Linked DNA regions of Homo sapiens: region 2 is linked to region 1. Evidence: fine-mapped expression QTL. A gene starts in region 1. The other region holds a variant in brackets. All regions are shown on one strand. Distances are from middle to middle.

The links.
Region 2: its variant is fine-mapped to the expression of CIROZ in whole blood (TOPMed, PIP above 0.99).

What each region holds. Positions count from the first base shown.
Region 1 is chr1:10,976,710-10,987,286 of GRCh38, forward strand. It overlaps CIROZ (ciliated left-right organizer protein containing ZP-N domains), which reads right to left and starts at 5,367. Exons shown (of 13, transcript NM_001170754.2): 1 at 5,303-5,367. The coding sequence starts at 5,328.
Region 2 is chr1:10,951,579-10,963,154 of GRCh38, forward strand. CIROZ (ciliated left-right organizer protein containing ZP-N domains) reads right to left here. Exons shown (of 13, transcript NM_001170754.2): 6 at 7,136-7,174; 7 at 6,038-6,175; 8 at 5,445-5,529; 9 at 3,412-3,608; 10 at 2,441-2,564. Among named protein-coding and RNA genes, the nearest start is that of CIROZ, 25 kb to the right of the region's middle. RefSeq lists enhancers at 6,883-7,652, 8,422-9,191 and a silencer at 9,494-9,788. The variant G/A (reference allele first, on the strand shown) is at 5,796.

The DNA.
Region 1 (10,577 bases):
AAAAAACCCATAAGTAAAGAAATAGAAGAACAAAATAATCTCAGATAATAATCAGGCTCAGAAGAAAATGAAACAGAGTGGTGAGATACAGAGAGCCTGAGAGGACCTCTGATGGGGAGGTCAGTGTGAAAAGATCATCCTCAAAAAAGGCAACATAGATTTTAGGCCGGGTGCGAGGGCTCACAGCTGTAATCCCAACACTTTGGGATGCTGAGGCAGCGGGGGATGGCTTGAGCCCAGGAGTTCAAGATCAGCCTGGGCAACATGGTGAAACCCTGTCTCTATTAAAACTATAAAACATTAGCTGGGCATGGTGGCGCATGCCTGTAGTCTCAGCTACTCAGGAGGCTGAGGTGGGAGGATCACCTGGGCCCGGGAAGTCAAGGCTATAGTGAGCAGTGATTGCACCACTGTACTCCAGCCTGGAGGACTACAGTGAGACCCTAGTGCTGGGATTACAGGTGTGAGCCACCATGCCTGGCCTCAAAAAGATTTTAAATGATGAATCTCGTGCCTATAATCCCAGCACTTTGGGAGGCCGAGGCGGGCAGATCACCTGAGATCAGGAGTTCAAGACCAGCCTGGCCAACATGGTGAAACCCCGTCTCTACTAAAATACAAAAATTCCCCGGGCGTGGTGGCGTGCGCCTGTAATCCCAGCTACTCGGGAGGCTGAGACAAGAGAATTGCTTGAGCCCAGTAGGCGGAGATTGCAGTGAGATGAGATCACGCCACTGCACTCCAGCCTGCATGACAGAGTAAGACTCCATCTCCAATAAATAAATAAATAAATAAAATGATGAATCTGTATTAAAGATTTTATTAACTCATTATTAGTGAGGGAACCAGGCAGAGGTTACAACCAGTTCAAAGGAGAAGAAAGAACAGATACATTTCTAGATCAGGATGCAAATAGACACCAAACTGGCTTCTTCCACAGTGGGGAAGGGAAGCCAATGGAACCTCCCCCATGAAATTTATTTGCGTGTCCATAGGCAGGAATTGGTTGCATTGCCATAGGTTCTCTATGACTTAGAGCACCATAAGATAGCACAAAGGTGATGAAAGGCTGGAGTTAGACAGCAGGAACCCTCTTCTCCAAATAATGCTTAGTTTTCCATTGAAGACACCAGTAACCTTTAAAAATAATATTTTTGTTTATTCCAAATTTCTGTTTTTGCCAGGCGCTGTGGTTCACGCCTGTAATCCCAGCACTTTGGAGGCTGAGGCTGACAGATCACCTGAGGTCAGGAGTTTAAGACCAAACTGGTCAACATGGCAAAACCTCGTCTGTACTAAAAATACAAAAATTAGCCAGGCGTGATGGCACACGCATGTAATCCCAGCTACTCAGGAGGCTGAGGCAGGAGAATCGCTTGAACCCGAGAGGCGGAAGTCGCAGTGAGCTGAGAGCGTGACATTGTACCACTCCAGCCTGGGTGACAAGAACAAAACTCCACAGTAAAAAAAAAAAAAAAAAGTTAGCCACCACGCCCGGCTAATTTATTAGTATTTTTTTTGTAGAGATGGGGTTTCACCATGTTGCCCAGGCTGGTCTCAAACTCCTAAGCTCAAGCGACCCACTCACCTCAGTCTCCCAAAGTGCTGGGATTACAGGCGTGAGCCACTGCACCGAGCCCCCAAATTTCTTTATGTCAGGTAAAACATCACTGAGAGGTGACAGTTGAACCAAGATGGTATGTATGTCACGGAGTCCCGCTGGGCATGGTGGCTTATGCCTATAATCCCAACACTTTGGGAGACTGAGGCAGGAGGATCACTTGAGCCCAGGAGTTTGAGACCAGCCTGGGCAAAATAGCAAGACTCGATGTCTACAAAAAGATTTTAAAATTAACCTGGTGTGGTGGCATGCGCTTGTGGTCCCAGCTACTCAGGAGGCTGAGGTGGGAGGATTGCTTGAGCCTGGGAGGTCTAGGTTGCAATGAGCAATGATTGTCCCACTGCACTCCAGCCTGGGTAACAAAGCGAGACCCTGTCTCAAAAAAAAAGAAAGAGTCCCATGCAAAGACCTGGGGAAGGGCATTCCTCAGCAGAGGAAATAGTCAGTGCACAGCAAACAGTCGGAAATGAGTTTGGTGTGTTTGTGTTTAAGGACTCAAAAGAAGGTCAGTGGAACTAGAGCCAGTGACAGAGGGGCCGCTGGTGGGCAAAAAGGAGAGGGGCAGGCAGGAGCCATGGCCAGGGGTGCAGGCTGGGGTTTTACCATAAAAAATTGTGGGAAGCCCTGGAGAACTCTAAGCAGGGAAGGAAGAGGATCTCACTTTTTTTTTCTTTTTTGAGACTGAGTATCTCACTCTGTCACCCAGGCTGGAGTGCAGTGGCACAGTCTCGGCTCACTGCAATCTCTGCTTCTCAGATTTAAGTGATTCTCGTGCCTCAGCCTCCTGAGTAGCTAGGATTACAGGCGTGTGCCACCACGCCTGGCTAATTTTTGTATTTTTAGTAGAGTCGGGGGTTTCACCATGTTGGCCATGGCTGGTCTTGAGCTCCTGGCTTCAAGTTATTCGCCCACCTCAGCCTCTCAAAATGCTGGGATTACAGGTGTGGGCCACCGCACCCAGGGCAAGGATCTCACATTTTAAAAGACTCTTCGGGCAGCTGAGACTCCAACTATTTAAAATGACTGCAGGCAAGAACCTAAACTTCCCACAAAGAAGCTTTCCTTAGAGGAGTTCAGGAAATAATCCTGAAGCCAGAAGCTGGAAAGAAAGAATGACAGGGAGAGATTGGCAGAATGTGGAGCATTGAGAAAGCTCCTGCCTCCTGGCGGGAGTGAGGTTGGTTCAACCACTCTTGGGAACTGGTAGAATCTACTAAGACTGAACATTCCTCCACCCTTCGACCCAGCGCTTCCTCTCCAACTGCAAGGCAAGCACAAGGGCATCAGAGGACACGTGCAAGACTGTTGACAGCAGTGCTATTATTTCCTGTAACCTGGAAACCACCCCAGCGCCCAGCAGTGGTAGAATGGACCCATTGTGGTCTACTCCTACAATGGAATACTGAACTGCAATGAAAAGAAAGAAACTACTATTGGACGGGTGCAGTGGCTCACGCCTGTAATCCCAGCACTTTGGGAAGCGGAGGCGGGCGGATCACTTGAGGTCAGGGGTTTGAGAGCAGCCTAGCCAACATGGTGAAACCCTATCTCTACTAAAAATACGAAATTAGCCAGGTGCGGTGGCGCATGCCTGTAATCCCAGCTACTCAGGAGGCTGAGGCAGGAAAATCGCTTGAACCTGGGAGGTGGAGGTTGTGGTGAGCCGAGATCTCACCATTGCGCTCCAGCCTGGGCAACAAGAGCAAAACTCCGTCTCAAAAAAAAGAAAGAAAGAAAGTTAACAGTTTAAAAAGCAATGTGAAAAGGCAGGAATGGGTGCTGCATTTCCTTCTAGGGCTGCCCTCGTTGAGCCATTCGATTCCTGGGTGGGCAGAGGGCCAGGGCCTCAGGCCCAGCCCAGGGAGGCCAAATGCCAGGGCCCACAGTCTCCCCAGAGTGGGTTGGCAAAGAATGACAGGACTGGTTCCCCAGCCTGGAATCTAAGCTGAGCCTGCAGCCTTTGAGCTGGGAGGAGCTTGCGGCTGCCTGGCTGCCCCGCTGCCCCGCTTCATTCGCTGAATTCAGAAGCGCCTGTGGCGAGCCTCTCCCATGGACGGCCGGGTACCCGCCCTGGGCTCTGCTGCCTGGACACTGAGCCCAATGCGGAATTCCTCTCCCAGCAGCGGGGAGGCGCTATTATTAGTTGATTAATTTGCAAAACAAAAACCTGGCTGGGGCAATTGGTCTTGAAGGAAGGTTCTCCCAGAGCGAGTAAATCTGAGACAGGACCAGAAGAATAATCTTGGGGAAAAGGAAAGTGGCTGACTCTGGTGCTGAGTCCCGGCCTTGCCAGGGACCCCGACTCTGCTGTTACACAGGGAATGCTGTCTGGAATCGGCCCGGTGGCAGGTGGGGGGTAGACAGCTCTCCCCTCCGTCTGATGCCTGCTCCTGTTCTCCTCCTTGAGCATCAATCGGGAGAAAGATGTGGGTTTGGGTTTTTCCCCCTCACTTCTCAGACCCAGAACTGCCCCATCCCAGTCTGGGGGGAGACATGATGCTCCATCCCCCAAAGCTGAGCCCCCTCATGGGGCATCCAGGAGAAGGCAATGGGTCCCCAGGACAGGGCCCGGACCTCCCCCTTGCTCGCCCAGCCCCACAAAGCCCCACTCAGCTTCTCCACTGCCTTCATTGTCTACAGACTTCAACCTCACAAAACGCCCAACAAAAGCCCTGCAGTCCACGGCCCAAAGGCCACAAGCCAGCTATTGTGACATTCCAGCTGGCCTGGGAGGCTTCACTTCCCACTCTCAGGAGCTTTTTAAAGTATCTCTTAAAAATGCATCTCAGATGGGGAAAAGAGGTAGCAATTCTGTTGCCAAGGAAAATGAGATTTTGGCCAAGTGCAGTGAGTCATGCCCGTAATCCCAATACTTTGGGAGGCCGAGACAGGAGGATGGCTTGAACCCAGGAGTTTAAGACCAGCCTGGGCAACACAGTAAGACCCTGTCTCTACAAAAAAATTAAAAAATTACCAAAGTGTGGTGGCACATGCCTATGGTCCCAGCTACTCAGGAGGCTAAAGTGGGATGATCACTTGAGCCCAGGAGTTAAGAGATGACAGTGAACTATGATCTTGCCACTGCACTCCAGCCTGGGCAACAGAGCAAGACTCTATCTCAGGAAGAAGGAGAGACAGAGAGGGAGAGAGAGAGAGAAAGAGAAAAGAAAGGAAAGGGAAGGAAGGAAGGAGAAAGGAAGGAAGGCAGGGAGGGAAGGAAGGAAGGGAGGGAAGGAAGGAAAATGAAATTTTCTCCTAATCCTTACAATCGAATAGCTAGCGACCACAACTCCTATCATTTGAAAACTCCTTGAAATCAAGCATCTCTTGGTCAACTTGACCCCTAATTTGTTTTGTTTTAAGGACCCTCTAGGACAAGGAAGACGTGTTCTGTTTTCTCCCAATCTTCTGGAAATCCTTCCCAAGATGGGAGGACTGGAATTCCAGAACAAGGGATGACAGGAGCATGAGAAAGGTGGGAGAGACTGTGGCCGGACCTCACCTGAGAAAGTCAGCCCTTCCCAAGGCATCCATGCATCTGGGCCCCTCACCCATTTGGCCCCCTTCCCTCTTAGATGCAAGGCTTCTGATTCTGATGGAAGATATTTGGCTTCTTCAAGGAGTGTGGGCACACTAAGCATGCCACTGGCTTCTCCCAATTCCTGAATAAGGGACACTTACCAGGCAAGTGCTGGGGACCCCCACATCCTCAGGCCCAGCAGCTCTCTCCTGCCCTGGGAGAATTTAATCTGAAGCAGTTCCAAGCAACTAAACGAAAGGTTGGCTCCTCCCCTTCCCCTCCAGTGCAGGTCTCGGGTCACTCAGGTGCCAGAAAACACAGGTGGGTGTCAACACTCTCAGCTTCTCCCCATCCCTCTGCATGGGTGAGATGAATTGCTTCAGCCGTGGGAGCTCAAAATAAGATTGCGGATCAGAAGGCTGAAGATGAATTGATCCACTGAGGCTGGAGTGCAGGCCCTCATTCTCCGCTCCCGGGAGAAGCCTGTCTCTGTGCCCAAGGAAGGAAAGAAGCTAAGAAACTGAGCTTCACCGGAGGAACAGTCACGCTGTCTTGATGGGGCTTCCCAGAACCCTGCTCCAGGCCCCTCCTGGCAGAGTTCAAAAGGAGCTGAGGGGCCAGGCATGGTGGCTCATGCCTGTAACCCCAGCATTTTGGGATGCAGAGATGGGCAGATTGTTTGAGGTCAGGAGTTCGAAACAAGCCAGGGGAACATGGCAAGACCCTGTCTCTACAAAAAATTTAAAAACTAGCTGGGCATGGTGGCACACACCTGTGGTCCTAGCTACTCAGGAGGCTGAGGTGAGAGGATTGCTTGAGCCCAGGAGGTTGAGGCTGCAGTGAGCCCTGATTGTGCTACTGCACTCCAGCCTGGGCAACAGAACAAGACCCTGTCTAAAAAAAAAAAAAAAAGGGGCCGGGCACAGTCACTCATGCCCATAATCCCAGTGATTTGGGAGGGCGAGGCAGGCTGATCACCTGATGTCAGGACTTCGAGACCAGCCTGGCCAACATGGTGAAACCTTATCTCTACTAAAAATACAAAACTAGCCAGGTGTGGGGGTGCACGCCTGTAATCCCAGCTACTTGGGAAGTTAAGGCAGGAGAATTGCTTGAACCCGGGAGATGGAGGTTGCAGTGAGCCAAGATCGTACCATTGTACTGCAGCCTGGGTGACAAGAGCAAAACTCCGTCTAAAAAAAAAAAAAAAAAAAAAAAAAAAAAAAAAAAAAAAAAAAAAGACCAGGCGCAGTGACTCACGCCTGTAATCCTAGCACTTTGGGAGGCTGAGGTGGGTGGATCATCAGGTCAGGAGTTTGAGACCAGCCTGGCCAACATGGTGAAACCCTGTCTCTACCAAAAATACAAAAAATAGCCGGGCTTGGTGGTGGGCACCTGTAATCCCAGCTACTCTGGAGGCTGAGGCAGGAGAATCGCTTGAACCTGGAAGGCAGAGATTGCAGACAGCTGAGATCGTGCCATTGCACTCCAGCCTGGGCGATACAATAAGACTCCGTCTCAAAAAAAAAAAAAAAAAGGAAGAGGAGATTAGGGCACGGACACATACGGAGGAATGACGGTGTGAGGACACAGGGAGAAGATGGCCAGCTGTGAGCCAGAGAGGCAGCTCCGGAGAAACCAGCCCTGCCTGCACCTTGATCTCAGACTCCTAGCCTCTAGAACTGTGAAGAAATCAATTGGTGTGTAAATCCCAAGTCTGTGGTACTCTGTCGTGGCAGCCCTTGCAAACAAATATCCCTGCAAAATGAGGATTTAGGACTAGATGGTTCCTAATACCCTTTGCAAGTGAAAAAAAAAAAAAGTCTTGATTTTAACTATTCCATTTTATCTGTGTTTATCCCTTCCTCCCCCCGCCCCAAATACTTGCCATTATTGAAAGTCGAGGAAGCCAGGCACAGTGGCTCACTCCAGCCTGGGCAACAGAGCAAGATTGTATCTCAGGAAGAGAGACAGAGAGGGAGAGAGAGAAAGAGAGCCTGTAATCCCAACATTTTAGGAGGCTGAGGTTGGCAGATCACCTGAGGTCAGGAGTTCGAGACCAGCCTGGCCAATATGGCGAAACCCCATCTCTACTAAAATTACAAAAATTAGCCGGGCATGATGGCACACGCCTGTAATCCCAGCTACTCAGGAGGCTGAGGCAGGAGAATCGCTTGAACCCAGGAGGCGGAGGTTGCAAGTGATCCAAGATGGCGCCACTGCATTCTAGCCTGGGTGATGAGCGAAACTCCATCTCAAAAAAAAAAAAAAAAACCAGAAACTAATTATCTCCCAGGTTTAGAGGCCAGAAGTCCAAAATCCAGGTGTCAGCAGGGCCACGATCTCTCTAAAGATCCCAGGGGAGGGTCGTTCCCTGCCTCTTCCTAGCTTCTAGTGGCTGGTGGCAGTCCTGGGTGTCCTGGGCTTGTAGCTGCATCACTCCCATCTCTGCCTCCGTCACCAGCATATGGTATTCTTCCTGGGTGTCTCTGTCCACATTTTTCTTTTTCTTTTTTTTTTTTTTGAGAGAGAGTCTCACTCTGTCACCGGGCTGGAGTACAGGGGCACTAAGTGCTGGGATTACAGGCCTGAGCCACCACGCCCGGCCCCAATTTTCCTCTTCTTATAAAGACTCTAATTACTGGATTAAGGGCCAGCCTAATCCAGTATGACCTCACTTAACTTGATTGCATCAGCAAAGACCCTATTTCTAAATAAGGTCACATTCCCACATATCTGGGATTTGGCTTTTTTTTTTTTCTTTGAGACAGGGTCCTACTCTGTCACCCAGGCATGAGTGCAATGGTGCAATCACGGTTCACTGCAGCCTCGACCTCCTGGGTTCAAGCAATCCTCCTGTTTCAGCCTCCTGAGTAACTGAGAATACAGGCACACACCACCATGCTTGGATGATTTTTAAATTTTTTCTAGAGACAAAAGAGACCAGAGGGAACAGCCACGGTGGCTCACGCCTGTAATCCCAGCACATTGGGAGGCTGAGGTGGGCAGATCACTTGAGGTCAGGAGTTTGAGGCCAGCCTGGCCAACATGGTGAAACCCCATCTCTACTAAAAATACAAAAATTAGCCAGGCATCATGGCGCATATCACTCATTCTAGCTACTCGGGAGGTTGAGGCACGAGAATCACTTGAACCCAGGAGGCAGAGGTTGCAGTGAGCTGAGATCACACCACTGCACTCCAGCCCGGGCGACAGAGCAAGACCCTATCTCAAAAAACAAACAAACAAGAGACAGAGACCAGAGGTCTCTGAGATGGGGTCCGTACGAAAGATACCACTACGTTGTCCAGGCTGGTCTCAAACTTCTAGGCTCAAGTGATTCTCCTGCCTCAGGCTTCCAGAGTGCTGAGATTACAGGTGTGAGCCACTGCACCCAGCCTGTTTCTCTTTTTCTTTTCTTTTTTTGAGACGGAGTTTCACTCTGTCACCCAGGCTGGAGTGCAGTGGCACGATCTCTGCTCACTGCAACCTCCACCTCCCAGGTTCAAGCAATTCTCTGCCTCATCCTCCCGAGTAGCTGGGATTACAGGCACCTGCCACCACGCCTGGCTAATTTTTTGTATTTTTAGTAGAGGCGGGGTTTCACCATCTTGGCCAGGCTGAACTTAAATTCCTGACCTCGAGATCCACCCGCCTCAGCCTCCCAAAGTGCTGGGATTACAAGCGTGAGCCACCACACCCAGCCCTGTTTCTCTTTTTAACTCATCTTTTTGTTGACCAACTTTTCCTTTAATCCCAAATTGCTCGGGATTTATCATGAGCCGCCTAAGAAGACATGGAGTTGGAAGTGGAGACCCAGAGTGGTGCATGGAAGCTGGTTGTCACCAGGATCTGTTCACGCTCAGGTGAAAGGCCCTCATCACACCAAACAGAAGCAGGCAGGATCAGAACACACAGCTGGTGAAACCCTCACGGGCCCTGGAGGAGGCCCAGATGCCCTGGCCCACTTCATAAGGCCTCAAACAGAAACGCCAAAGCCAGGGCAAACATCACTGGTACACAGCTCACTCAGAGAACCTGCAAGGACCACCCTGGAGCTGTTGTTTAAATCTTAAAAAGAGAAGAAGAAACAGGAATTGAAAAACAGGTTTTCTTTCCTAATCTGATACCCTAAACCCCATTCCTCCTACACACACACGCACACACCTATAAACATAGCCACAGACATCTCTACACACACACCCTGAAACCCACCTACACACACAACCCTATACAAAACTCTTAGCATATGCCCCACACACTCCTAGAAATGCGCGCGCACACACACACACGCAGTAGGGGCTCCCGTCTTAGATATTTTTAGAGAAAGCAATTTCATTGGGGTCTTTCCAGTGGAGCTCAAATTTCATTTCTCCATTTGGGAAAATCACATTTTCAAAATAGCTTTCTTTTTTTTTTTTTTTTGAGACAGTCTCGCTCTGTCACCCAGGCTGGAGTGCAGTGATGCAATCTCAGCTCACTGCAACCTCTGCCTCCCGGGTTTAAGTGATTCTCCTGCCTCAGCCTCCTGAGTAGCTGGGACCACAGGCGTGCGTCATCAAGCCTGGCTCATTTTTTTGTGTGTGTTTTTAGTAGAGTCGGTGTTTCACCGTGTTAGCCAGGATGGTCTTGATCTCCTGACCTCGTGATCCACCCGTCTCAGCCTCCCAAAGTGCTGGGATTACAGGCGTGAGCCACCGCGCCCGGTCAAGAGTAGCTTTTATGCAATAGTTGGAAGCCGTGAGAATTGGCCAAGTCAGCCCCAGCACGGTTTTCCCCATGGTTTTCTTATTAACACCTTCCTTCTCTTGCAAATACCCACTGAGCTGGTTTTTCAAAAGCAGAAACCACTGACCCACTCACTGGTCTCCTTTGATACTTAGAGGTTAACGATTACTAAAAATATACATATTGATTCCAACTGCCAAGCTTCCCAGGCCTTTTCAGGATGTCCATCTTGCTGAGATCTGGCACCATTACTTACCACTTTTATGAGGAGGAAACCAACATTTAACCAAACTATTACCAGGCTTGCTGAAGTTCCTCCTGATCAGTCAGTTACAAACACACAAAATAACTAGATACTTGGTTGCCTGAGAGGCAGAAGGTGAATGGGCAATGCAGCCTGTTGGTGAAACACGGTCTTTTTTGCTCTATTAGAATCATGAGACCGGGCGCGGTGGCTCACGCCTGTAATCCCAGCACTTTGGGAGGCCACAGCAGGTGGATCACCTGAGGTCGGGAGTTTGAGACCAGCCTGGCCAACATGGAGAAACCCCACCTCTACTAAAAACACAAAAATTAGCCAGACATGGTGGCGGGCGCCTGTAATTCCAGCTACTTGGGAGGCTGAGGTGCAAGAATCGCTTGAACCAGGGAGGCGGAGGTTGCATTGAGCCGAGATTGTGCCACTGCACTCCAGCCTGGGCGACAGAG
Region 2 (11,576 bases), 25 kb before region 1:
GCTTGGTATGGTGTCTTGTACCTATAATCCCAGCTACTCAGGAGGCTGAGACAGGAGGATCCCTTGAGCCCAGGAGCTCAATGTTATAATGAGCTATGATTGCAACATTGTACTTCAACCTAGGCAATAGAACAAGACCCTGTCTCTTATTTAAAAAAAAAAAAAAAATATATATATATATATATATGCACACACACACATACACACACATATGAAAACAACTATATCTAAACCATCTCTTAGATTTCTGCAGACCAGACACTTCAATAATTAGGATTTGTCCTATAGGTTCTAATTACTTTTGGGGTCAGGGAAGAGGAAGATTTTTTAAAAATCTCTAACCACGGGGAGTTTAGGCAATTCTAGCATATATTAATATTCCAACACATTAGTCACATATTTACAAAAGAAAAATATTATCTGTGTAAAACTTTTTTCTTTAATTCCTGGTGAAAATTCAAGCCAACAAGCATTTATGAAGTGCTTACAAGGGCAAGGCGGCAAGATAAGGCCTGTCAAGAATAAGAAGCCGAACAGGACACAGCCCCTGATCTGAATGAATTCATACTAGAGGGAGAGACAGGAGCATGCACCATAACTATAATAAGAATAGAAAGACCTCGAAGCTGCAGGGAAGCTGCTGGGGAGGTGCAGGGGAGGTGTGCTGGGAACCAGGGAGGGGAGAGATTCATTCTGGTTGCTGATGTAAAATTAACAAAATGAGGAAGAGAACATTCTTTCCCCGTGTAAATCTTTCCAGAGAGGCCAAAAAAACTCTTCCTAAAATGTTTCTATTGCTGTTGCTGATCTATTTTTATACTGTACTCTGTATCTTCCTATCAAGGACCTGCCCTCTCATCAAAACCTAGGATAAAGATCACCTACTCTCTGACATCTCTCCTGAGTTCACCTGCCCTCATAATTCTCTGGGCATTTTTTTGGTGTTGTTTTTTGGTTTTGTTTCTGTTTTGAGACGAGTCTTGCTCTGTTGCCCAGGCTGGAATGCAGTGGCACAATCTCAGCTCACTGCAACCTCCACCTCCCAGGTGCAAGCGATTCTCCTGCCTCAGCCTCCCAAGTAGCTGCGATTACAGATTAGAGATGTCTTCTTTTAGGAGAGACAGGGTTTCGCCATGTTGGCCAGGCTGATCTCAAACTCCTGGCCTCAAGTGATCCTCCCACCTTGGCCTCCCAAAGTGCTGGGATTATAGGCGTGAGCCACCGCGTCTGGCCTTTCTGTGGGCATTTCTTATCTCCCCTTCCAGATTGGACGCTGCTTGAGAGCAAGAACCAAATCCAGCAGCCTCTATTCCCACCTAAGCCTTGCATGGGGCCTCATAAATCGCAACTGCTTATTGAATATCTGTTGGATAAAGTTCTAGCCCTCGCTTTCCAAGATTAATGTCATCACTGCAGGAAACTGTTAAAATAAAAACAGCCAAAATGTGTAAAAATTTTCAAGAAACATTTCCATTTTTAGCAGACTGTCAGAACTCACCCCCAATCCCGCCTTTTTCTTTGTTTCTAATTCTGAATTTGGGGCTAGCTGTGGTAGGCAGTCCCCCTTTTAATCTTTAAATATAGTTCTGAATATAATTACACTTTTGTGCAACACCGAAACATCATATCCTCGTGACAGGGCAAACTTGCACTATTAACATCTGAGTTAAATCTCCTTCGCGTCTGTCTTCGATTGAGGACAGTTAGGAAGTATAAGATGAAAGTGATCGACATCGTTTGTGAATTACGTGCATTTCCTTGTGCTGTATTTCAATGGATTTTGCTCCTGGTGGTTTTGCATGTGTGAATACCAGGTTGTCCATTAGCGGAGCTTTCGCCAAAAACCCCATCCCAGCATCCTAGCATGAAGGCATACACCACGTTTAGAAGAAGGTTCCTCTTGAGCTGAGAAACAAGTTGCATCGTGTCGTGCTCTTTGCCAAGGACACTCGTCTGTCTACCAAATGACCGGAGGAACTGGAGCCCACACAGAGAGAGTGGATAAATGGAAACAGCTCTTCTTGTGCCAGGCACTCACTCTTCTAAGCCATTGATTCCCCTTATCTCATTCAGTCCTCAAAATAGGTACTGGTATGCCTATTTTCCAGATGGGAAAACTGAGGCTCAACATGGTTAAGTAACTCACTGAGGTTGTACGGTTGGTTAGGAAATGGATGCACCCCCATCCGCCTCCCTTGTCCCCTCCCTGGCAGACTCCAGGGCCAGGAACCACATCACCACTCAGTTCTCATGATACTGTTGTTCTTCTGCCAGTTCCAGCCAGTATGTCTGACACCTCACTTACCTTGTAGGTGTGGGATCTGTCGGGTCCAGGGAGTGAAACATTGTCACAGAAGAAAGAACCCCAGGGCCAAGGAAAGAGGGTTTGTGTGGTGTGTGCCTGTTACCAGCAGTCACACCCTCATGGTGCCTCACTCACCCACACACTGGAAGAAGCTCTCCACTGTCCAGAGGACCGGGGCAGCCATCTCGGCAAATTCCAGGCTCAGGTCTACCCTATAGAAAGCTTGTGTTCCCGGGGTTCCTCCGACTTCTTGGCATCGCTGTGGGGCCACAAGAAATTAGTTGCACATTGGCTGGGCGCAGTGGCTCACGCCTGTAATCCCAGCACTTTGGGAGGCTGAGGCAGGCGGATCATGAGGTCAGGAGATCGAGACCATCTGGCTAACACAGTGAAACCCTGTCTCTACTAAAAACACAAAAAATTAGCTGGGCGTGGTGGTGGGCACCTGTAGTCCCAGCTACTCGGGAGGCTGAGGCAGGAGAATCGCTTGAACCCAGGAGGAGGAGGTTTCAGTGAGCCGAGATCGCGCCACTGCACTCCAGCCTGGGCAACAGAGCGAGACTCTGTCTCAAAAAAAAAAAAAAGAAAAGAAAAGAAAAGAAAAGATAAGAAATTAGTTGCACATGGCAGGGGCATCCCATGCCCTGTGGCTGTCCCCTGATGGGGCTACCTTGGTAAAAGCACGGGCCTGAGGAGCATACATGGTGAAGTCCATTTTCAGCCAGCGCCACAGCTCTGCCCTCCACATTTCTTTCTTTTTTACTTTTATTTTTTGAGACAGGGTCTCACTCCCATTGCCTAGGCAGGAGTGCAGTGGCACAATCACAGCTCATTACAGACTCAACTCCCTAAGATCAAGCAATTCTCCCACCTCATTTTGTAATTTTTTTGTAGCAATGAGGTCTCACTATGTTTCCCAGGCTGGTCTTGAACTCCCAGGCTCAAGTGACGCTCCGGCCTCGGCTTCCCAAAGTGCTGGGATTACAGGCACGAGCCACTGTGACTGGCCTACCTTCCATGTTTCTGACCACATATGGCATCGGTGACCAAAGGAGAAGGGCCTCAGGAAGAGAAGGGGCGAGACAGAGATGCCACCGGATACTCACCTGGACCTGGAGCACCCCGGCCGCCGGAATGCTGACCACCACAAAGTCCTTGTTCTCAGTCACCATAAAGATGTTGGACTGGTGGACTCGGAGGAATCTGAGGCTCAGGGTTTCCTCAATGTAGGAACCTCTTTTGACTAGACCCAGTCTCTGCTTGGGGATGTGAACTAAGACCTCCGACTCTGGCTGGAATGACACTGGAATGGGAAGGACACAGGACACAGAAAAAGGCACACTTTGCAGGCTCGTGGACAAATTAAGTGGTGGTGGGCCTTTGCCAGGGGCCACACCTGTGGCCGGCACAGCACACTTCCCCAGTCAGTGACAGCAAGTTACTTGGTGTCCTGGTATCACTGCCTGGGCTGAAACTTAGCTGCATGGATGAAGAAGAGAAGAAAAAAAGACCATTCCCAAACACCTGACAGACCTTGCCACTTGCAAAGGCCCATCAGGAAGCAGATGCCAGGAGGGAAGCTGCAGAAATGTCTCTACTGAGACCGTCTTTGGCTTCGGTGACCTAGCCCAGTGCCCCTTCCATTTCCAAAGCAACTCTTAAGTAATATAACTCCTAGGCCAGGCACAGTGGTCCATGCCTGTAATCCCAGCACTTTGGGAGGCCGAGGTGGGTGGATTACCTCAGGTCAGGATTTCAAGACCAGCCTGGCCTACATGGTGAAACCCCATCTCTACTAAAAACACAAAAAATTAGCCAGGCGTGGTGGCGGGTGCCTGTAATCCCAGCTACTTGGGAGGCTGAGGCAGGAGAATCGCTTGAACCCTGGAGGTGGAGGTTGCAATGAGCCGAGATCGCACCACTGCACTCCCACCTGGGCAACAAGAGTGAAACTCCATCTCAAAAAAAAAAAAAAAAAAGAAAGAAATACAGCTCCTATCAGTTGTTTACACTTTAGCAAGAATTTCACTGTGTCAGGCTCTCAGGGGGACATTTTAAGCCAGCTCTGCAGCTGCTAATGGAAGCATCTGCCTTTATATAAAGGGATTTGAAACACTGTGAACAGGGAAAGAGATGGTTGGAGGCTCATCATGGTCATTGCCAATGCCTGAAAATCCCCAGAGCCCTGAGCCCTGATCCCGAAACTCAGTCCATGATAAAATTCTATACAAATGGAAAGTCTAAACCACCTCTAATCTACCCACACAGGATGAAGCCTTTGATCCACCTAACTTTGCACACCGAGTTCTTTGAATTTAAATTCCCTGGAGGTAGGAAGTGGTCTTCCAGATTCCGGACCTCTTTATATGACATAAGACCCAGGGCAACGGTGTCACTCCAGGCTGAACAAAACAGTTATCACATACATGGTCTAGATAGGGGGTCCCCACCACCCTCAGATCACAGAGCCCTGGAGGGTCTGACCAGGCTGCAGGCTCTCTCCCGTCTCTGTTCTCAGAGCCTCTGGAGCCAGCTTAGGAGCTCCCAAGAATTTGCAGACCTCAAGTTTGCAGGTCTGTAGTAGATGATTTTACTTTTTTTTTTTTTTTTGAGATGGAGTCTCGCTCTGTCCCCCAGGCTGGAGTGCAGTGGCACCATCTCGGCTCACTGCAAGCTCCGCCTCCCAGGTTCACGCCATTCTCCTGCCTCAGCCTCCTGAGTAGCTAGGACTACAGGCCCCCGCCACCACGCCCGGCTAATTTTTTGTATTTTTTTAGTAGAGACAGGGTTTCACCGTGTTAGCCAGGATGGTCTTGATCTCCTGACCTCGTAATCCACCCGCCGCGGCCTCCCAAAGTGCTGGGATTACAGGCGTGAGCCACCGCGCCCGGCCGATGATTTTACTTTTTATTCACCCCACATCCCACCCCTACTCCACACACACATACCCCAACACCTTCCAGCAAAAGCAAACTTCTCTTTGTCCCGAGCATTTCTGAAACGCATAGCCAAGGTTGGGACTGAGGAGAGGAGAGGTGGGATGAGACAGAGGGGAATAAGGTGCCCAGAGGAGGGAGAAAACAGACCAGAATGTGATGAAGTTGGAAAGGTGGACATTAGGGGCACTCCTGGGTCTTACCCGGTGGGCAAGCAGCTTCTAAAGAATAGGCATGGTGACCGCTCACCAGCCATAGTGGCAGGAGCTCAGCAGAGGTGTTCAGCACCTGGGGAGGAAGGGGGGTCCCCCCTGAGGTCTCCAAAACTGCTCCTTCCAGATGCAGACTCCCTCCACAGGGGCCCCCTCTCCTACCTTCGAATTAGTCTCTGAACTAAAGCCCCAAGTGTTACAAAGCCCAGGTCAGGGATTATGGCGCCGATGCAACTAGGAAATATTATTTAGCTGAGATATTTTTAGCAGGAAGCGAGCTCAGAGCAAATGTCATGTGAGCCGTCTTCTCTTACACAGCAACTTTGGGCTATTTAAAGAGAC[G/A]GTAATTACGCTCCTGCCGCCATGATCAGGACGCACTGAATGCATGATTGCAGGAGCCCCTCATCTGCAGAGCGGAGCGCTTTACGCTAATGGGGCCCAATTTTCGAAGGCGCCTGCCTAAATCTGTCCAGTCTCGCAGGTGGACATTTGACTTGTCACTGGAGGGGTGGCAACCTGCTCTTCTAGGTGCTATGCCCCAGAGGCCCCTCACCTCCTGGCAGAGCCTGCTGCCCACCACTGACCTCCCACCTCTGAAGAAGGCCTTGTCTCGGGCTTTGGACGGTGACAGTGGTGGCATTCATGTCCACATACAGTCCCATCAGGCTGGCGTCTTCAAGAGAAGCCACCAGCTCCCCTCGAAGGGACAGCAGCCATGGAGTCTGGAGAAAGAGGACACGATCACAAACCATGTGGCCAGGGAGGCACGGTCACTAGGGGTTACGGAGAGGGGACACTTGAAGGGTCACCTAGGAAGGCAACAGGGTCACGGGGAGGATAATCTAGGCCAGGAGGCAGGACGGCAGGCCACTCTGGGAGGAGAGTCAACCAGACGCTAGCACGCTTATACTTTAGGGTAGGAGGTCCCTTGCAGGGGTGCCTGGCACACAGTAGGTGTACAACGCAACTGAAAGAACGAACACACAGTTACCCCTAACAGCAATGCCAACCAGTCGGCCCCTATGCCGCCCTGGCTGGGCACAACTGGAGTCCTGTCCTTGGCTCTGTTTGCCACCCTTTAGTGGGACATGGGAATCAGGGTCTTGAATAAAGGTGAGGGCCAGATGCGGGCAGAGGGACAGGGAAGGGTCGCCAGCTCCCATCTCAGGAGGACTGGCAGGGAGACATCAGGAAGACTTGGGGAGGTCAAGCTCACTGACCCCAAATATTCAAAGGGATGTGAAATGGAGAAGAGGGACTGGATCCTTCGGGGAGGCTGCGGGAAACACTCAAAGGACCAGCAGAAGGAAAATTCGGGAAACACCTGTGCAACATGGAACAAGCTCCTTACAAAGGAACAAGCTCCCTGTCACTGGAGACTTGGCAGAGAGAATCTTAGCACAGGAAGGACCTTACAGCCTTCCAACCCAGCCTCCCACCCAAAGCTGGGGTCCCCTCTTCAAGATTGTTCTCAGATGGCCTCAGGCCTCTGCCTGGAGGGCATCAGTGGGAGCTTCAAACTTCAGCCGGCAAGACCTGGTCCTTGAAGAGTCTGTACCATCCACGACACTCTCCGGAGGACAAGCAAACTCAAAAGCTGCCTCAGAGCATCCTGAGCACCCACCAGTCCTAGCAGAAACTTCCAGAGAGTTGCTCCTGCTACTTCAATGGGGCCCGCTTACCTGTCTATTGTCCCTCCACAGGGGCAGGGGCCGGGAGACCTGCAGAGACAAAGAGGAAGCAATGTCTCCTGCAAGCGGTGAGCAAAGGTGAGCAAACATCCCTGCCTGTGCCCATCAGCACCGGCAATTACCCCAGCAGGAGGCCGGTGAGAGAGCTGTGCCGCAGGGTTGTTTGCTCATTAAGACAAGAAAATCATTTATGTTCTGGGACTCGAGTGTCAACAGACGCAGGGAAATGTCACTGCCTCAGCTGCCATCCTAGGCCCGGCCAAGGGGGCAGCTGGGGTCCTGGGCGCAGCTGGTGAGGCCAAGAGCGGGTGTGCATGGGACCAACCCTGCTCACGGCCCACTTCCATTGGGGCTGTTTCCTAGGCCTCTTGTCTGTTTTTCTCCCTAAGTCCCAATTTCTTTCTCGCCCTTTTTCTTTCCACTTTGGATCCAACTAGCAGAAGTAGAGAGTGAGGGCTTCTACGGTCCCAGAGAGTACACATGTGCCCCCCAATGGCACCATTCTTAGGGGCACCAACCATCCCGGTTCCCCAGCAGTGGGGAGGTTCCCCTGATGTGGGATTTTCAGTGCTAAAACTGAGACAGGCCCAGGCAAACCGAGACAGTGGTTTCTCGTACCGCGCCTGAGTCTCACAGCCATCCCGTAGGGTGGCACCATTCTCCCGTTTCACAGACCAGGGCCCAAGGTGATGGCGTGGGCAAGGCACCTTCCCCAAAACCCCTCTGCAGCCAGTGCCACCCCACCCAGGTGCTCTCTCAAGTCTCTCTACTTTCTCCAAATGCCCCTTTGCCTTTGCGTCAGACTTGGCCAGGGAGGTTGTGGCACCGGACAGAGTCACAGACCAGCAGAGGGTCCCTCGGAGACCATCAGACCCCCTCTCCTACCCAATACAGAATGAGGAGACTGGAGCCAGAGTGGACTGACTCATCTTGACAGCTCCCCAACTCAAGGCTACCCACCTCTTCTCCCCAGGGGCAAAGAAGGGCTTCCAGAAGCAGAAAGGAGTGGGTGGGGCCAGGAAAAGGCCCGCCACCACCATGCAGCCTCCCCAGTTGCCCAGCTCGGCTGTTCCTTGGCCCCAGAGAGCCCATGTTGGCAGCAGGCTCGGGCTGCCCACAGGGAGCCCCTCGGGTCAGCCCTGTGATGGCCTTGCTTTTAGGGGGTGCTGCCTTCCCTTGGGGAGCAAAGTGGAAGAAATGGAGGAGATGTCCACAAGGTCTGGCAGAATGAGGAGGATGCGGCAATTCCTCAACAACACCACCAAAGCTGCACCATGGTGCCCCAGCCCATCTCCCCTGCTGAACCAGGAAGAAGACAGAGAGGCCCCCAGAGGCCAGGCTGTAAGAAGGAGGGAAGCAATTCTGCTAAAAGAAGGAAGGGAAGGCCAGGTGCAGTGGCTCATGCCTGGAATCTCAGCACTTTGGGAGGCTGAGGCGGGTGGATCACCTGAGCTCAGGAGTTCCAGACCAGCCTGGGCAACATGGTGAAACCCCATCTTTACCGAAAATACAAAAAATAAAAAATAAAAAAATTAGCCAGGAGTGGTGGCAGGCGCCTGTAGTCCCAGCTACTCAGGAGGCTGAGGCACGAGGTTCGCTTCAACCTGGGAGGCGGAAGTTGCAGTGAACTGAGATTGTCCCACTCACTCCAGCCTGGGCGACTCTGGCCAGAGTGAGACTCTGTCTCCAAGAAAAAAAAAGAAAGGAAGGGAAGACGTGACAAGTACGCAGCCAAAACGCACCGTGCCCTTTAAGTCGCCAGGAGGAGGCTATATTTAGGGCCCGTGGACATTCCGCAGGAGCTCGGGCAGCCTTCACTGGGAGCAATCGCTAATCACTGCATTGAGTTTACGGGTGCCCCTGGGCACACTTAACCCAGGGCAATGAATAGTTATTGCGCGGCCTCCCGCTCGGGGCCTGTGGGCACACTTAAGCGAGCTCGCAGATCGCTGCGAGCAGGGCACGGCTCGGGTACACCCTTGGGCACCCTGCGCCATCAGCGGGGAGAGGCAGAGTATTAAATATCTATGTGCCCTGTGCCCACAGCTGCATTTAGCCAAGGGCAAGGCCGGTGAAACGGCTTTAATTAAAACTTAATGCAAGTTCAAGGTGCAGCCACGGAAGTGGCGGCTGCAGAAGTCACCAGGAATGAATCAGTCAATTCGATGAGGTTCTCAGATGGGGGAAGGGGCTGGAGGGGAGGCGGGGGCAGCAGAGACCTGCCTCTGCTCCTTGTGTGCTGCCTACCTCTGTGCGACTCTGTTTACGGATGCAGAGCCCCCCCCACCCACCTGCTCCCACACCTCGGTCAGTGAAGGATGCCAGGGACTGGGGCATTGGGGCATCTGGGCTTCAAGGGCAGGACGATGGAGACCAAGCGGCGCCCGAGTGAGGAGTCGTTTCTGCTTTTCTCAGCAATTCGGCCCAGGCCCACTGTCGTGTGAGGACAGCAACACCGTCCCCCTAGCGGCGGCTTCCAGAATCACAGGCTCAGTGCAAAGGGAGCAGTAACCAGCCCCGGGATGTCAAACAGGTGCCCTGGCAGCCCTGCTTGGGGATCCCGGGGCGGGGCCGGCCCCGCAATTCTTAGGTGCACCAACACTGGCTTTGGCGTGGCCACTCTGAGCCCTTAATAAAGGTAGGTGGGCAGAGGAAGCCCCTCCCGCTCAGCCCCTGCTCCTTCAGGTTAAGAAGCAAAGGAACTTTAGAGAGTCCAACATGGCAGTGAGCCGGGCTCAGAGCGGAGATGAGCCCAGGTCTTCTGAGCTGGGCTGGTGCAGGGGCCCTTCCCACCACAGCACACTCATTTTTGAAGCTCAGATCAGATGAGAAGAAAGCGATAAGCTCTTCCTGGGGCAAGTCATGCCTTGGTCGTATCTGTTCCCTCAGCAGCAGCACAGGGCTGGGCATACAATAGATGCTCAATAAATGCTTGTTGGGGCCAGGCGCGGCAGCTCACGCCTGTAATCCTAGCATTTTGGGAGGCCAAGGCAGGTGGATCGGTTGAGGTCAGGAGTTCGAGACTAGCCTGGCCAACATGGTGAAACCCCATCTCTACTAAAAACGCAAAAAATATTTTAAAAATCAACTGGCTTTAATTAAACTGGTGGTGGCGCATGCCTGTGATCCCATGAGAATCGCTTGAACCCAGGAGGCAGAGGTTACAGTGAGCCGAGATCACACCGCTGTACGCCAGCCTAGGCAACAGAGCGAGACTCTGTCTCAAAATAAATAAATGAACAAATGCTTGTTGGATAAATGGTGTTTGTCATCAGCAGCCTTTTCACTCCAACCTCCTCCTCTCAGTTCTGCCTTCCTCTCCTTTCTCTTCCTCCTTCCTTCCTCCTCCTCCTCACAGACAGAAGATGCCCACCCAAATCCCTCAGGCCAAATCCAGCACTTTGTTTGAGCCGCACAGTGCCTACAAAATTAAAGTGACTTGACCGGGCGTGGTGGCTCACACCTGTAATCCCAGCACTTTGGGAGGCCGAGGCAGGCGGATCACTTGAGGTCAGGAGTTCTAGACCAGCCTGGCCAACATGAGGAAACCCCGTCTCTACCAAAAATATAAAAAATTAGCCGAGTATGGTAATGCATGCCTGTAATCCCAGCTACTCGTGAGGCTGAGGCAGGAGAATCACTTGAACCCAGGAGGCGAAAGTTGCAGTGAGCTGAGATCACGCCACTGCACTCCAGCCTGGGTGACAGAACGAGACTGCATCTCAAAAAAATAAATAAATAAAGTGAACTTTTTTTAACTGGAGGATTTCACATACAATTATAGATTTCCAGTTTATCTTGAAATGTTGGAAAATCTGGCAAAATGGGGCTGGAGTGCAGTCCAGCCTCAGCTCCCTCTGTAGGGGGCCAGGACTGTAGGTTGTGCCTGTTCCAGCATCCCCAGCCCCCACCATGTGGTCTGGCTCAAAGCCCAGCTCTGTTGCTACCAGCTGGCAAGTCTCCTAATCTCTCTCTGCTTAGTTCTCTCACCTGCAGAATGGGGATCAATATAGAACCAACTACATAGAATCGCTATGAAGGTGAGATGAGTTAATATTTGCAAAGTGAGTAGAACGGCACCCAGCACAGAATGAGCCATATATAAGTGTTTGCTGGGCCAGGCGTAGTGGCCCACGCCTATAATCCCAGGGCTTTGAGAGGCCAAGGTGAGAGGATCGCCTGAAGCCAGGAGTTTGAGACCAGCCTGGGCAACACAGTGAGACGCCGTCTCTACAAAAAATTTGAACATTAGCTGGGCATGGTGTCATACGCCTATAGTCCCAGCTACTTGGGAGGCTGAAGTGGGAGGATCCCTTAAGCTCAGGAGGTCAAGGCTGCAGTGAGCCTGCGTGACGGAGCAAGATCCTGTCTCTTTAAAAAAACAGGCCGGGTGCAGTGGCTCCCACCTGTAATCCCAGCACTTTGGGAGGCT